4 linked regions of the Homo sapiens genome follow. The protein of the gene in region 1 interacts with the protein of each later gene in a biochemical or structural test. Each region holds a gene or a part of one and is shown in the gene's direction. Other genes may lie near its edges.

The links. The genes of interacting proteins can lie anywhere in the genome.
Region 2: the proteins of RAPGEF6 (region 1) and GJC1 interact in a test that uses a peptide from one of them, tested with the Homo sapiens proteins (one large-scale study listed by IntAct).
Region 3: the proteins of RAPGEF6 (region 1) and SLC17A1 interact in a test that uses a peptide from one of them, tested with the Homo sapiens proteins (one large-scale study listed by IntAct).
Region 4: the proteins of RAPGEF6 (region 1) and AKAP10 interact in a test that uses a peptide from one of them, tested with the Homo sapiens proteins (one large-scale study listed by IntAct).

Annotation. Positions count from the first base shown.
Region 1 is NC_000005.10:131,432,717-131,436,335, reverse strand, and holds part of RAPGEF6 (rap guanine nucleotide exchange factor 6), read left to right. Parts: coding exon of another isoform or gene 1-385; exon of another isoform or gene 386-575; intron 576-2,677; coding exon 2,678-2,906; intron 2,907-3,619. UniProt on the Homo sapiens protein: Guanine nucleotide exchange factor (GEF) for Rap1A, Rap2A and M-Ras GTPases. Does not interact with cAMP.
Region 2 is NC_000017.11:44,799,181-44,802,799, reverse strand, and holds part of GJC1 (gap junction gamma-1 protein), read left to right. Parts: 3' UTR 1-3,619. UniProt on the Homo sapiens protein: One gap junction consists of a cluster of closely packed pairs of transmembrane channels, the connexons, through which materials of low MW diffuse from one cell to a neighboring cell.
Region 3 is NC_000006.12:25,829,146-25,833,540, reverse strand, and holds the start of SLC17A1 (sodium-dependent phosphate transport protein 1), read left to right. Parts: upstream 1-1,488; 5' UTR 1,489-1,547; intron 1,548-2,933; 5' UTR 2,934-2,983; coding exon 2,984-3,017; intron 3,018-4,395. UniProt on the Homo sapiens protein: Important for the resorption of phosphate by the kidney. May be involved in actively transporting phosphate into cells via Na(+) cotransport in the renal brush border membrane. Plays a role in urate transport in the kidney.
Region 4 is NC_000017.11:19,974,922-19,979,159, reverse strand, and holds the start of AKAP10 (A-kinase anchor protein 10, mitochondrial isoform 1 precursor), read left to right. Parts: upstream 1-1,331; 5' UTR 1,332-1,480; coding exon 1,481-1,568; intron 1,569-4,238. UniProt on the Homo sapiens protein: Differentially targeted protein that binds to type I and II regulatory subunits of protein kinase A and anchors them to the mitochondria or the plasma membrane.

The DNA of each region.
Region 1 (3,619 bases):
CTGCCCCGGAATAGGTGGGGCTTACTTGCAAAAGAAAATCCTTCAGATTACCAGGAGCACAGCCAAAAGAACAGACAGTACTGAGAAGGCCACTGAGGAGAATAGAGACAGGACAAGTTGTGAGAACACAACCAGAAAAAGAATGACATCCCCGTTTAGAAGACTTAGGGAAAGAATGCTTTCAAGGGAGAGACTAGTCAACAGCCAAAAAGAGGACACAGATCACAATCAAGCTACAGAAAGCTGTGAGAAAGTGAAGGATGTTGGAAGCAACATCAAAGATGAGAAAGGGAGTGCCATCTTCAATTCAAATAGCCAAGGCAACAGTAACACTTTAAACTGCTTCTATACGCGATTCAAGTCTAAAAGGAGGAAGACACTCTGATGAAGTTCCTTATTTAATTTTAGTGTTAAGTTTGTTTTCAGTTATTAATGTATACATGGCTTAAATTAAACCATTTGTCAAAGCTTAGGCAGACAACTTAGTAAAATACTATTTATAAACACTTGAAAATGCCTCATTTGTACATAAGTTATTTTACTGATGTATTGAGTTAGTAAATTTTATACTCTTGTTTTCTGTAGTTGACTTTATTTCCTACTGTTAGCTGGATCTGTGAGTGAAATATGTAGAGGAGGCTTTTTTATCTTCTACTTTTTACGTATCTTTGATTGGGGGAGAAGGGACTAGTCTAACATAGCAATATCAGAATCATCTGGGAAACTTGTTAAAAAATGCAATTACTGTGTCCCACCCCAGACTTCATAAACTTGAATTGCCAGAAATGGGATCTGGAATGTTTATTTTAATTGGCTTGCCAGGTGGTTCTTAGTATTATTATATTTGAGAAATACTGATCAAATAGACATAAGAATGAAATTATTTTTTAAACAATGAAGCAAGATTATTGTGTAGAGCAATGACTTTTTCTTTTCAAGAAGAAGGTTTTTATTTATTTTTAATTTACTTATTACATCCACTTTCTTGGTCCTCTTAAAAATTGACTAATCAGCTCATGGACATTGACAAATAGCAGTGATCCCAAGTTCAGAGATGTATGATAGACGTCAGAAGACTGGCTTGTCTTGGCTTACCCTGTTCCTGTCCACGTAGGCCAAATATAAATCACACATTTTCTAGGCCTTTTTCTCTTTGAAATAGTTAACGAAACGACTTAATAAGATTACTGTGCAACAAATTATTCCTTAAATGACTTGAGTTATATGTGAATAACTCCAAGATCCATAAACAGAGAAAGACTTGGAACTAAGGATGTTGTCATCCTCTTTCTGCATGAAGATGAGGCCCTGAGAATTCCAGTAACATACCCAAAGCCTGTAATTCTTCCTAATGACATTTCTAGGTATTGGTCCAAAGGTCACATATCTACTAAACCCTACTTTCCTCTGTGAGCAAGAAGATATTTTTTACTTCTTTGAGACCCGTCCCTTGTTGGGATTACTAGGGCATTTTCTTTTTCTTTTATTTCTAAACAAAAATTTGGTTTCTTCCAGTTATCAAAATAGATTATTATGTACATTAGCCATTCTGTTGCAGATTTGTTTTTGGGTCCTTCACCTCAGTGCGTCCCTAGAATACAGAAGAACATCTCTCTAGTTGTCTGCTGTGCAGTAAGTCACAGAACAACATAGAACATGTAGATGCTGTTTTTTTCTATAACACATTATTAAACATGTATCCACTCAGCTGTTTAATATTCTGCAAGGTTGGTGAAGAAAAAGGAAACTAAGTATGACACTAAGTTTAAACCTAAAACAATTTAAAAAACTGAAACAGGCTGGGCATGGTGGCTCATACCTGTAATCCCAGCAATTTGGTAGGCTGAGGCGGGAGGATCGCTTGAGGCCAGGAGTTGAAGACCAGCCTCGGCAACATAATGAGACCTCATTTCTGCAAAAAGTTTAAAAATAACTGGGTGTGGTGGTGCAGACCGTAGTCCCAGCTACTTGGGGCTGAGGCAAGAGGACCACTTGAGCCCAGGAGTTCGAAGCTGCAGTGAGCTATGATCGTGCCATTGCACTATAGCCTGGCAACAGAGCAGGACCCTGTGTCTAAAAAATAAAAATAATCTAAAACAGTGACTCTCAACTCAAGACAAGACTTCTTAGGTGGGATATGCAGAATATATGGGGTAAGTATATATAGTTTGATAAAGCAAAAATGTAGTTCTTTCCCTTGAGTCCTGGACTCCCACCCCTACCCTTACTTCAAGATGGTATTTGGGATTCAGATCAGGTCAAGAAATATTCATATTAATCAAAGGAAGGAGCGTTGGGTTAAAAAGAAGTTGAGAAACCCTAAAGACATGTACTTATTAATATTTGTAATCTTCTTATTTTATTAAATGATTATAGCTGTGGGAGAGCCTGAGAAAGATATACCTTTAAACTAGTTTTCTGAGTAACACTGGACTTTGACTGTCTTTTTCTTGAATGTGTAGTTGTATTGGTGTGGTGTGGATAGTAGGCAAATGGTTATGTAGGGGAATGTGTGGAGAAAATTGGCACCATTATATCTACATAGATGGAAACTAAAATTGCTTCTACTTTGTCTTCTGTTATTTTTGTGGGGTTTTTTTTTTTCATCCTTTCCCCTACTACCCCCACCATATGTTCCCTTTTTTTGTAGTTTGATCAGTGCTCTTTTCTTGTTCAGGTTACACACTTATTCCATCAGCTAAATCTGACAACTTGTCTGACTCCAGCCATAGTGAGATTTCTTCACGGTCCAGCATCGTGAGCAATTGTTCTGTTGACTCCATGTCTGCAGCTCTACAGGATGAACGGTGTTCCTCTCAGGCCCTGGCAGTCCCTGAATCCACTGGGGCATTGGAAAAGACAGAGCACGCTTCAGGGATAGGAGATCATAGTCAACATGGCCCTGGGTAAGCATCATTGTCTGTGTTCATAACACAAAACCCAAGCCAAGTGGCCACTGCAAGGAGTGCTCCCCACCTTGACCTTGGACCTCCCATGGGGTAATTGCAGAGTTATCCATAAAAGAATATGTGGGCCAAGCACATATTCTCTATTCTGAATATGTAAATAAGCACTATGTTGAAAGATGTATGGGTGTTCATTTTTAAAGTGTTACTAAATTCAAGTAACTTTTTATCATTATGTATCTTTCCAGTCAGAACTCAAAGTGCATCTGCTACTTATATAGGGGAGATAATTTTTGAAATTCTGGCTATAGGTTAATCAAAAAGGTTGTGTTTTGGAAAGTGCCTCGAGTGCTGTGCACATTGTAGACAGGTTGGGAGAGTAGGACTAGCCCTTGATCTCTGTCCTCTGAAAGTGTAATTTGGGGAGTAAGAATAATCACCTAGCAAAGGTTAATTAAAAAAAAAAATCAACTCTAAATTTCTATTTAGAATCAAGCAACGTGGAAATCTTTGAGAAAGTTTATTCTAACTGATAAATATTGTGAAATCTGGTCTACTTTAATATGAAAAATTTAAGATAAATTATTACCACATTTATAAAGATTTCTAAACTAGGATCTCTACACCAGAGGTCAGCAAATGTTTTCTATAAAAGTTACATAGTAAACATTTTAGACTTCACAGGCCATAAGGCCTCTGTCACAACTACTCTG
Region 2 (3,619 bases), on another chromosome or scaffold:
TGGTCTCGAACTTTTGGGTTCAAGTGATCCTCCCGCCTCAGCCTCTCAAAGTGTTAGTATTATAGGTGTGAGCCACCATGCCCAGCCTAGAAAATTTAACCTTATCTTTTAGCCATTCATTTACTTTTATTTGCTTTTTTAAAAAAAAATCTTTAAATTTTAGCCTAGAGAAGCACCTCAGGAACTCTAAACATCTTAGGCAAAAATTAAACTCAGGTGAGACTGAAGGAGAAATTTCAGAAATACACATGTACCTCATGGGTAATTAATAGACATGCACAGTTTCCTTCAAATCAAATGTTTAATAAGGAAATTCATATAATTCCAAGAAAACAGGCAAAATTTGGAATACATAAGCCTAGCTAAGATAAAGAACTACCAGTTAATTCTTAACATCACTGGAGCTTCCAGCAGGTTTTTTAATTGAAGGACAAAAAGTGTCCATACATTTGTGTTATCTCTTCAGAGCCTGAGGGAGAAGAGAGTGGCTTTGCCCAGTGGAAAGGCTGGGGATTTGAGAATGATACAGGGGGAAGGAGTCAAGCAGAAATGCCAGGAAGAACCAGGCAAAGACATTTGGCGCCAGAAGCATCCACTTAATTTCTGTGAAGAGTGCCCCTGGTGTTTCATCTTGGCCTGTTTTGATGAGAATGTTATCTTTTGTGTCTGGATAACGCGTCAGCTTCTTAAAGTACATATAAAGATATTCTGTCACCTCCCCACATGCACACACTTTTAAAATCTATTTTTATTCTCTTGCTAAAGTTGTAATTATGTCAAGAATTTTCCAGCTCTAACTGCCTTCTTAGTACATGTCTTTCTGCCTTTGAAGCATATGAGTTTGCCAAAGTCATTCTCCCCTAATGACATATTGTGGACTTACATTAAGAAAATGGGCCAGGCGCGGTGGCTCACACCTGTAATCCCAGCACTTTAGGAGGCCCAGGCGGGTGGATTACCTGAGGTCAGGAGTTCAAGACCAGACTGGTCAACATGGTGAAACTCCATCTCTACTAAAAATACAGAAATTAGCCAGGAGTGCTGGGTGGACGCCTGCAATCCCAGCTACTTGGGAGGTTGAGGCAGGAGAATTGCTTGAACCCAGGAGGCAGAGGTTGCAGTGAGCTGAGATCATACCATTGCACTCCAGCCTGCAAGACAGAGTGAAACTCTTGTCTCAAAAAAAAAAAAAGAAAAAAAGAAAGTGAGCCTGTTGATGTCTAGCTAACCCATTGGTGGAGTCTGCATTGAATCTGTAAGAATATTGTTCTGGATCATGCAGGTGGGATTTGTATAAAAAGCCTGTCCAACATTTAGTTCTCACTCGCATCAGAATCATACTGTTTTGAATTGCCATATAAGACATGCTCCATCATGACACTTGCTTCTCCTCCAAATACAAGTTGAGTGCTTAGTCCTTCACCTGCTAGAATCAGGATACAATCAACATGATTATGTTCCTTAACACACTTGGATTTATGCAGATGTGGTGTGTCCTTTGCTCTTTTTTTTCTTAAGACAGAGTCTTGCTCTTGTCGCTCAGGCTGGAGTGCAGTGGTGTGATTTCGGCTCACTGCAACCTCCGCCTCCTGGGTTCAAGCGATTCTCCTGCCTCAGCCTCCCGAGTAGCTGGGATTACAGGCACCACCACCATACCAGGCTGATTTTTTTTGTATTTTTAATATAGACAGGGCTTCATCATGTTGGCCAGGCTGGCAGGCTGGTCTCGAACTCCTCACCTCGTGATCCGCCCACCTCAGCTTCCCAAAGTGCTGTGATTACAGGCGTGAGCCACCGCGCCTGGCCTGCTCTTAAAACCCGTTATTCAGAAGATTTGTAAAAGAAATAGGCTTTTTTTTTTTTTTTGGTTAATTCAAACGAGGGGAAAATTAGATAGCATTTTCCCCTAAAGAAATGTTAATGTTCATTTTGTGGCTTTGTTTTCAAGTTTCAGGAGCCATGTACATCTCAGAAGTGTTACGAAGTGATTAGAAAAGGCCTCTGGTAAAAGACCTTCAAGGACCAACCATTATTATTGGTCACTTGTTTGAACTTGGCGCTTAAAAAAAAAGTTGGACTGTGATGCTTTGGTGCTCTTTATCACAGACATCAGTGATGGTCTGAAACACTCTCTAGCAGTTTATACGAAGAATGGACTTACATGTTATCAGTTACACTCATGATTTACTCGTTCAGCTTCTACAAGTCCATACTTTATGCTGTCTCATTTAAGAGACAGTCCACTTCTGAAAATAAAATCGATAGTTGATGATACATTTTTGGCTAGCCAGCTTTCTGTAAAAGGCAAGTATGTTAGACATGCACAGTTTCCTTCAAATCAAATGTTTAATAAGGTACTTCAAGAAACGCCTTTTTAAAAATCAAAGGTTTTGGCCAGGCATGGTGGCTCACGCCTGTAATCCCAGCACTTTGGGAGGCCAAGGTGGGCGAATCACAAGGTCAGGAGTTTGAGACCAGCCTGGCCAACATGGTGAAACCCCGTCTCTACTAAAAATACCAAAAATTAGCCGGGCGTGGTGGTGGGTACCTGTAATCCCAGCTACTCAGGAGGCTGAGATGAGAATCACTTGATCCCAGGAGGTAGAGGTTGCAGTGAGCCGAGATTGCGCCATTGCACTTCAGCCTGGGCAACGAGTGAAACTCTCAAAAAAAAATTCATAGTAATAATAAAGTCCCTGCATGCAGTTTGGAAATAAAATTTAAACTCATTTATGTGTAATAAATATGTAATAATTCACAGTCACCATCAAATGTTGGAATCATTGAATTGCATACTTGTACTCATTCCGGCCACATCATGAAGTGTTTAAAGATTTGTATTTGCTGTTGTCCCTATGTAGTTCTATTGATGTTTGGTTTTGTTTTTTGGGGTTTGTTTTGAGCCCAGGCTAGAGTGCAATGGCACAATCTCAACTCACTACAGCCTGGACCTCCTTGGCTCAAGCAGTCCTCCCACTTCAGCCTCCCAAGTAGCTGGTCTGCAAGTGCTCACCACCACACCTGGCTAATTTTTGTATTTTTTGTAGAGACAGAGCTCTCACTATGTTGCCTAGACTGGTCTCAAACTCCTGGGCCCAAGCAATCCTCCCATCACAGCCTCCGAAGGTGCTGGGATTACAGGCATAAGCCACTGTGCCCAGCCTGTTTTTAATAATGATATTAAGTGGGTTTGGTTCATGTGTTATTAATCAGTGTTAATAATCGTACTTTTTTTTTTTTTTAAAAGAAACCATGGTATTCTAAAATCAGGAGTCCAAATAAAAGAAAGTTCTCGGCTGTGCATGGTGGCTAACACCTGTAATCCCAGCACTTTGGGAGGCTGAGGTGGGTGGATCACTAGAGGTCAGGAGTTTGAAACAAGCCTGGCCAACATGGTAAAACCCCCTCTCTACTAAAAATACAAAAATTAGCCGGGCATGGTGGTGCACACCTGTAATCCCAGCTACTCGGGATGTTGAGGCATGAGATTTCCTTGAACCTGGAAGGCAGAGGTTGCTGTGAGCCGAGATCGCGCCACTGCACTCCAGCCTGGGTGACAGAGTAAGACTGTCGCCAAAAAAGAGGAAAAAAGTTATCCAGTGCAGTTTCTACAGAGATA
Region 3 (4,395 bases), on another chromosome or scaffold:
ATCTCACAGAGCAGCAGAAAGCTTTGGGGCCAGCAAACAGAAAGATGGTTCTCCTTCAGGTAATCAGTATCCAGAACTGGGATACTGATGGCAGATGGGAGTGTTATTATTTAACACATGGACTTTGAACAACTGCTGACCTAGGGGTTTCAATCACTAAAAGGGCTCCTCTTTCAGAAAATGCCAGAAATTGCCCAGCATGAAACAGGACAGTACAAACATTCTGCAACACACAGAAGAGGACCAGCAGAATCTGGACTTTTGAAAAAGAAAAAATCTAACTGAATAACAACATCAAAGTCTCCTGGGCAAAGGGGTTAAAGATTTACAACATTTCTTTAGAGGAAAAAAATAACTGGTTGAATTTACAGAGCATCTGCTATGTGCCAAACATTTAATGAGCACTTTAAAAGCATGATAAAAATTAAAAAAAAACTTGTTAAGCATGAAATAAATTACCTATAATGCAAAATCACTGATTTTAGTGCTTGGATATTTTTAAGTAATTAGTAGATTACCTTCAAAGAGTTCTAAGTTAAAAGTATTAGGGGCCAGGCACGACGGCTCACGCCTGTCATTCCAACACTTGGGAGGCCAAGGCACAAGGATTGCTTGTGGCAGGAAGTTTGATATCAACCTGGGCAACACAGCAAGACCCTGTCTCTACCAATTAGCTGGGTACAGTGTTGCATACCTGTAATCCCAGCTACTTGGGGCTGAAGTGGAAGGATCCCTTGAGCTCAGGAGTTCAAGTCTGCACTGAGCTATAATTGCACCATAGCACTCCAGCCTGGGTGACAGTGTGAGATCCTGTCTCTCTATGTTTTTTTTTTAATGTTTCTGGATATTGCTATAACCAAGTGGATGAACCAGAACCTACAGTAATTGCAGGAAGAGCCATGAGAGAAGCCACACCTTCCAGAGGACATGCCTCAATAAAATGTACCTCTTTCTGAGTATGCTGAATGTCAAACAGATGTACTGTTTAGAGAGGAGTGTGGAGGAGACAGGGTGAGGGAAGGAGGGAAAGCAAGGAAGGAGGGAGAAGGAAGAAGGGAAAGAGAAGGAAGAAAGAAAGAAAAAAGGAAGAAAAGGAGGAAGAAAGGAAGGAAGGGAATTAAGAGTAAAAATTTAATATGGCATTTATGGGGCATTTAGAAAGCCACAACATTCCTGTGAGAACAGCATTGTATACTCAGAGCCATCCTTAATAGAGAAATCTTGAGAGCACTTATGGCAGGCAAGCTCTACCTCCTGGGCAGGGAGAGAGACTAAGGGTGTCTGCTTATTATGCCATGAAATTACTGGCAGATTCCCAGTTTCTGGTCCACTGGATGATTTTGACCCACACACCTTCCCTGAAGCTTTAAGGAAAAGGTAACAGTAAAGTTAAAAATTAAGCTTTTAACTTCGACACAGTGATGTCAAAAGATTTGGTGAATGATTTATGGGGCTAAACTTGGTAATCCTAGAAAGTCAATATTGTGTAAAGTTGAGAGAAAAGTCTTCACAGCGGAAGAAGAAATCACTTTTTTGTCCCGAATCAGGTTAGTCTACGGGGCTCATTAAATGAAATGAGCAATCAGTTGATTCCCCAGAGGGCCGTAAGGGGGCATTCCCTGGCAAAGATATTATTGAAAGTACTTAGCAATAGGGGAAAATGTGGGGAGGGGTGGAATATGCCCTATCTTCTGAGGCTTTTCACAAGAGAAAAAAGAACATATTTTTAGCAATCAGTGTGAGGTTCACAGGGACACAAGGAAAGAGAAGTATGTGTTGTACAGTGTGTGATGCTTGTATAGCTGTGGTGTGCTGTGTCTGTAATGTGTGTGGCACACTGTGTACGCCTGGTGCATCTGTGCCCATCATTTATGTGTGTGTGTGGTTATGTGTGTGGTGTTTGTAGTTTGTACTTCCGTTTTGAGGATGCAGTATTGTAACGTATTTATATGTTTGGTTTGCTATGTGTCTGGAGTGTATGTGTGGAGAACATAAGGGGAGTTTGTACCATGTGTTTATGTTGTATGTATGTATGTGGTGCATACGTATGGGTGGTTTGTGTGTGCATTTGGTGTGTATGTATATATGTATTGAAATAAACAGCAGCCCCAGAAGAGGTTCCAATGTGTGATAATGATGGTTGACAAATTGCTTATTCAAAAATATTTTGCAAATCCAATCTCAGGACTTTGGTATCTTTGGGGCACTAGGTATCATATAATCTGATATGGTAAAATCCTGAGGTCTAACCTGACCAGCACATATTGGTGCTGAATTCTGATGGTAAGGGGTTGCCTGATAGGAGACTGCTCCATTCTGATTCTCCACTGAGCTTCCTGCCATAAAGCTTTGCATCAGTGGCTGCTCTATCCACGGAAACTGAAGATACGGACAGGGGCATGTGGACGTGTAACGAATGATTAGCCTCTGCTTGAGTTGATCTTATCAATAAGCAGATAGTATCTTCCAGCTCTATTAAGATACAGGGGGAAAAAAGGAATTTGTTTTACCTTTGCTTACTCCTTTTCTGACATTCTTCCTTTCTTTTCATACTGCCGAGTTTCTGACCTATAGCAATCTCCTTCTGCCTGAAAGGCTTCTTTTAGTGTTCCTTACAGGGCAGGTCTACTGGCAATGAATTCTTTCCATTTCTCACTTTGGAGGAATATTATCACGGATTTAGAATTCTGGATTGGCAGGGTTATTTGTTTGTTCTCTGTAGTTTTCAGGTCTTCCATATATTTTTAATCAACCAAAACAATCACAAAAGTAAAATAAATATCAAGGGAAGCACATAATGGAGGTGAATGGGCACTGCTGTGATGGAGCAAGTTATCCTTGGAAGCGGTTTTAAATCAGAGAGGAGTACTGGGTAGTGTTTGGTCAGTTGCCTCTCTACATTATGCTGACATCAACGTGTTTTGCACTCACAGTGGGTGGAGGCAAAACCCTTCAGCAAGAAGAGAAGCAACTTCAGCCGTGTATGCAAATGGATAACCGGTTGCCTCCCAAAAAAGGTAGCACTTTATTCTGTTCCATTAAACAGGTGTTCTTTTTCTTAAATATTACATCACAGATTCCATGTGGAAGAATATTTTTGTGATATACATATGGGGTCTTAAAAATGTTCAGAAAAGAAGGTAGAAGAAACCAGTCCTACTATGGTTTTCCACCAGAAAAGCCCTAAATAAAAAGATTCTACATACTCTGGTGGCTTACACTTTATTTTCATTTTTGCGCACTTGTCAGTTTATCATTTAGTGGAAAATATCAGAAAAAACTGGGCTATTTTGGTTCCATCTCCAAGAGAAAGAGAGATAGATCTGTAAGTGGAAGTAAGGCAGGATGAATGTTCTTGAGTCCCTGCATTCTTGGACATCAACAGCTGAATGTGTACTGAATATTTTTTGAGAGAAGCTGTTTATTTTAGGCAGGGTAGTGTAATGACAATAAAGGATTACTGCTATTGGTTTAGCGTTGTGTCAATGTCATAGGGGACAAAATCCCAGAAAAGGAGATGAGCGATAGATTGTATACTTTTTCAACTTATGAAAAAGTTACTGTATATTAAATTATGTATTTCTTCTTGTATCAACTTTGATACTTAATTATTTTGATTGTTTAAGTTGTCCATTTAATCTGCATTCAAAGTTTATATATATATGTTTTTTTCTATATATTATTCATTTCTGCCCTTATGCATTTAATTCCTTTTAGACTTTTTGGGTTTGTTCCTTTGCTCAGTTTCCAAGTGTTTAAATTCTTTCTTTTTTGATAAATATATTTACAGATGCACATTTTACTCTGTCCATGAGTTTGATATGCGGTATTCTTATTACTCAATCCCAAACACTTTAGAATTCCCCCTGTGGTCTTCTTTTTAACTTAAAACTTGTTTAGACATAATTCATGGACTTCCTGGAGCAATGTGGAGGAGAGAAATGAGTAAAACTCAAAAGCATACCCCTAAATGACTAAGACAATGAGCCCTTCTCTGACATGGTGACAATGACTTCCCTTTTACCATGTAGAGACTCCTGCAGGTGTGTTTACAAAGTTTCTGATAGCTTTCTAGATCCATTCACTTCCCTATGATACTGAGTTTAGGCAGCAAATCAAAGGAAGGGCTGGCTGATGATTAAATTTCTCAGGGGTATTCTTTTACCCCCTTCTATTCAGCTCTTAAGTTCATATGGCACAAAATTTCTTGGCAGTCCACTGACAAGATAAGGGGGCAATGTGTTCATCCTCCATTGAACCATGTAAATCTTTGACATCCAAGCATTTTAGGAGAGGGTCTCCTACTATACACTATCGCATCGCTAGGACCTTGGTATTTGATTCCTGTTGTCCCCATATCATGGAAGGCCAAAAATCCCAAGATCAAAAGTCCAC
Region 4 (4,238 bases), on another chromosome or scaffold:
TATGCCCCTTCCTTATTTGGAAATGTTATTGCTTCCTTAAACCTTTCGGTAAGCAACTTCCTCTCCTTCTTCGTTCTTCCTTGCACTTACCTATTTAGAAAGTTTTAGGCTATTAGCAAATCGGCTATCAGTTTAAGAGTGTGAGGTCCCGCTCCAGCCAATGGATGCAGGACATAGCAGTGAGGACGACCCAAATGCGTAAGGGATAAATATGTTTGCTTTTCCTTTGTTCAGGTGTGCTCTCGACATCGTTCCATCTGCGATTGAGCACCCTTTCTGCAGAAAGTAAAGATTGCCTTGCTGGAGATCTTTTGTCTCCGTGCTGACTTTTCTTCGTGGCACCGATTATCTATTTCTAACAATTTTGGTATTTCTAACATTCTGAACAATCTTGGGCTAGTTGTCTCTTCTGGGCCTGTTTCCCCATCCGTCACATGATAAACTTCATTGGTTTAAAAACCCCAGCGAACATTTATTGAGTTACTATTACCTTCCTGCCCTCCCCAACCCCAACCCCAGGGAGCAGTTACAACCTCAGCCGCTGAGCGCACTCGCCGGGTGTTAAGAAGCACCAAAGACAGGGAGGCTTGATTGATTTTGCTTTGGGAGTAGAGGGTCAGAAGATTCACAGGAAAATGGCATTTGAGCAAGGATGATTCACTGGAGCTAGCTTTTAAATACTGGCGAGGCTTTTATGTTGCAGTCCCTTACAAAGTTGAGCATTCGCAGGGACTGCACTCCGAAATAAGCCCGCTTCCCCTTTTCATTCGCTAATGATCCAGGGAGCTGCTGGTTCCGCATGCGGCAGGTTGTGCCTTTTCCTAATCAGGGTTCTGCATCGCCTCGAACCCGCAGGCCGTGGCGGGTTCTCCTGAGGAAGCAGGGACTGGGGTGCAGGGTGAAGCTGCTCGTGCCGGCCAGCGCCTGTGAGCAAAACTCAAACGGAGGAGCAGGAGGGGTCGAGCTGGAGCGTGGCAGGGTTGACCCTGCCTTTTAGAAGGGCACAATTTGAAGGGTACCCAGGGGCCGGAAGCCGGGGACCTAAGGCCCGCCCCGTTCCAGCTGCTGGGAGGGCTCCCGCCCCAGGGAGTTAGTTTTGCAGAGACTGGGTCTGCAGCGCTCCACCGGGGGCCGGCGACAGACGCCACAAAACAGCTGCAGGAACGGTGGCTCGCTCCAGGCACCCAGGGCCCGGGAAAGAGGCGCGGGTAGCACGCGCGGGTCACGTGGGCGATGCGGGCGTGCGCCCCTGCACCCGCGGGAGGGGGATGGGGAAAAGGGGCGGGGCCGGCGCTTGACCTCCCGTGAAGCCTAGCGCGGGGAAGGACCGGAACTCCGGGCGGGCGGCTTGTTGATAATATGGCGGCTGGAGCTGCCTGGGCATCCCGAGGAGGCGGTGGGGCCCACTCCCGGAAGAAGGGTCCCTTTTCGCGCTAGTGCAGCGGCCCCTCTGGACCCGGAAGTCCGGGCCGGTTGCTGAATGAGGGGAGCCGGGCCCTCCCCGCGCCAGTCCCCCCGCACCCTCCGTCCCGACCCGGGCCCCGCCATGTCCTTCTTCCGGCGGAAAGGTAGCTGAGGGGGCGCCGGCGGGGAGTCAGGCCGGGCCTCAGGGGCGGCGGTGGGGCAGGTGGGCCTGCGAGGGCTTTCCCCAAGGCGGCAGCAAGGCCTTCAGCGAGCCTCGACCTCGGCGCAGATGCCCCCTGAGTGCCTTGCTCTGCTCCGGGACTCTTCTGGGAGGGAGAAGGTGGCCTTCTTGCGCGAGGTCAGAGGAGTATTGTCGCGCTGGTTCAGAAGCGATTGCTAAAGCCCATAGAAGTTCCTGCCTGTTTGGTTAAGAACAGTTCTTAGGTGGGGGTTAGTTTTTTTGTGTTTCTTTGAGGACCGTGGATCAAGATCAAGGAAATCTCTTTAGAACCTTATTATGGAAGTCTGAAGTTTCCAAATGTTGAGGGTTTTATGTCTAAAAGCAACACGTGAAAAAATTGTTTTCTTCACCCAGTGCTGTCTTCCAATTTCCTCTTTGGGGGGAGGGGTAGTTACTGCTGTTACTAAAATAAAATTACTTATTGCTAAAGTTCCCCAACAGGAAGACCACTACTTTTGATGACTTTGGCAAGTTTGCTAACTACTGGAACCCTAACTTACAAACGAACTACTTACATTTTTGATTTCCAGTTGTATTACCTGCCCAATGTTTACGTAGAAACAGCTTAATTTTGATTCTGGGTAACGTTGTTGCACTTCATTAAAAATACATATCCGAAGTGAGCAAGTATGGGTCTGTGGACAGCAGTGATTTTTCCTGTCAATTCCTGTTGCTTCAGATAAAATGTACCAGACAGAGGCCGGGCGCGGTGGCTCACGCCTGTAATCCCAGCACTTTGGGAGGCTTGGCGGGTGGATCACCTGAGATCGGGAGTTCAAGACCAGCCTGACCAACATGGAGAAACCCCGTGTCTACTAAAAATACAAAATTAGCCAGGGTGGTGGCGCATGCCTGTAATGCCAGCTACTTGGGAGGCTGAAGCAGGAGAATCGCTTGAACCTGGGAGGCGGAGGTTGCGGTGAGCCGAGATAGCACCATTGCACTCCAGCCTGGGCAAAAAGAGCGAAACTCCGTCTCAAAAAAAAAGTACCAGACAGAAATGGGTTTTGTTTTCTTTTTTTGTTTTGAGACGGAGTTTCGCTCTTGTTGCCCAGGCTCGAGTGCAATGGCGCGATCTCAGTCTCGGCTCACTGCAACCTCTGTCTCCCAGGTTTAATCGATTCTCCTGCCTCAGCCTCCCAAGTAGCTGGGATTACCCATGCCCCACCATGCCCGGCTAATTTTTGTATTTTTAGTAGAAACGGGGCTTCACCATGTTAGGCTGGTCTTGAACCCCTGACCTCAAGTGGGCCTCCCACCTCGGCCTCCCAAAGTGCCAGGATTACAGGCATGAGCCACCGCGGCCAGCCAGAAATGGGTTTTGGAAAAAGCACTAAACAAAATCGAACTTGGTTTCATATGACAGCTCTGCTGCTAACTGTAACAGGGGCAGACCAGTTAACCTACTTTTCTGTCTTCTGTCAGCTGAGAATTAGATGATTCCCAAAGGCCCATTGAACTCTGAATGACTTTAAATACTTCTTCTTAAGTGGGTACACGGTTTTGGTAACTGATGCCAGGTGATGAATGCATGAAAGTGCTTAATGAATGAAACCGGTAAAATAGTAGGAGGAAGCTTTATTGGTAAGGCAGGGGTATACCTAATAGCTCTCTAATTTATTGGTATTGAAGTGGTTAACTTTTGTTTTTTTAAGGGGGGAAAACATTCTAAGAATAATGAGGCAAACTGCATATTGCACAAGAGACTGTTGTCTCTATTCAACAAATACCTTTTGAGTGTCCAGAGTCTGCCAGGTGCTGTGCTAGGCCCTCACGATTGAGTAGTGAACCAGAGAATGTCCCTGCACCCATGGAGCTTATTGTCTACTGGGGTAGACAGATAATAAATAAGCAAACAAATCTTCTCTCTTCTCCCTTTCGCTCCATGTAAGTGTGTGTGTATAGGTGTATACTTACAAGTTGAGTAAAGTGTTATGAAAGATTAAGAGGAGAAATGCATTTTGGTTAGATGTTAGAGGACTCAGCAGGTGACCTTGAAACTTAGAGCTGAAGGATCAGTAGGAGGTAACTAGAGAGGCCAGGGAATCGCATGTTCAAAGGCCAGGAGGCAAGAAAGAGCATGGTGCCCTTCAAGAGAGGAAAGAAGGCTACTGTGACTGGAGCATAGATGTAGGCAAGTGTTGGGTGATTGAGAGCTCTACGGGCCATGGTTAGGTTTTATTCCTAATGCCGAGATGCCAAACATGGTGGTTCATATCTGTAATCCCAGTATTTTAGGAGGCCGAGGCAGGAATATAGCTTGAACCCAGGAGTTCAAGACCAGCCTGAGCAACATGAGACCTGTACAAAACATTTAAAAAATTGCTGGGTATGATGGTGCACACCTGTGGTCCCAGCTACTCAGGAGGCTGAGGCAGAAGGATCACTTGAGCCTAGGAGGTGGAGGCTACAATGAGCCATATTTGAGTCACTACACTCCAGCCTGGATGACAAAGTGAGACCATGTGTCAAACAAAATACAGAAAGAATATTAATTTAAAATTTTGAAAGAGGAGTGATCTGAACTTATATCTTAAAAAGATCATTCTAGGGCATGGTGGCTCATGCCTGTAATCAAGGGCTTTGGGAGGCT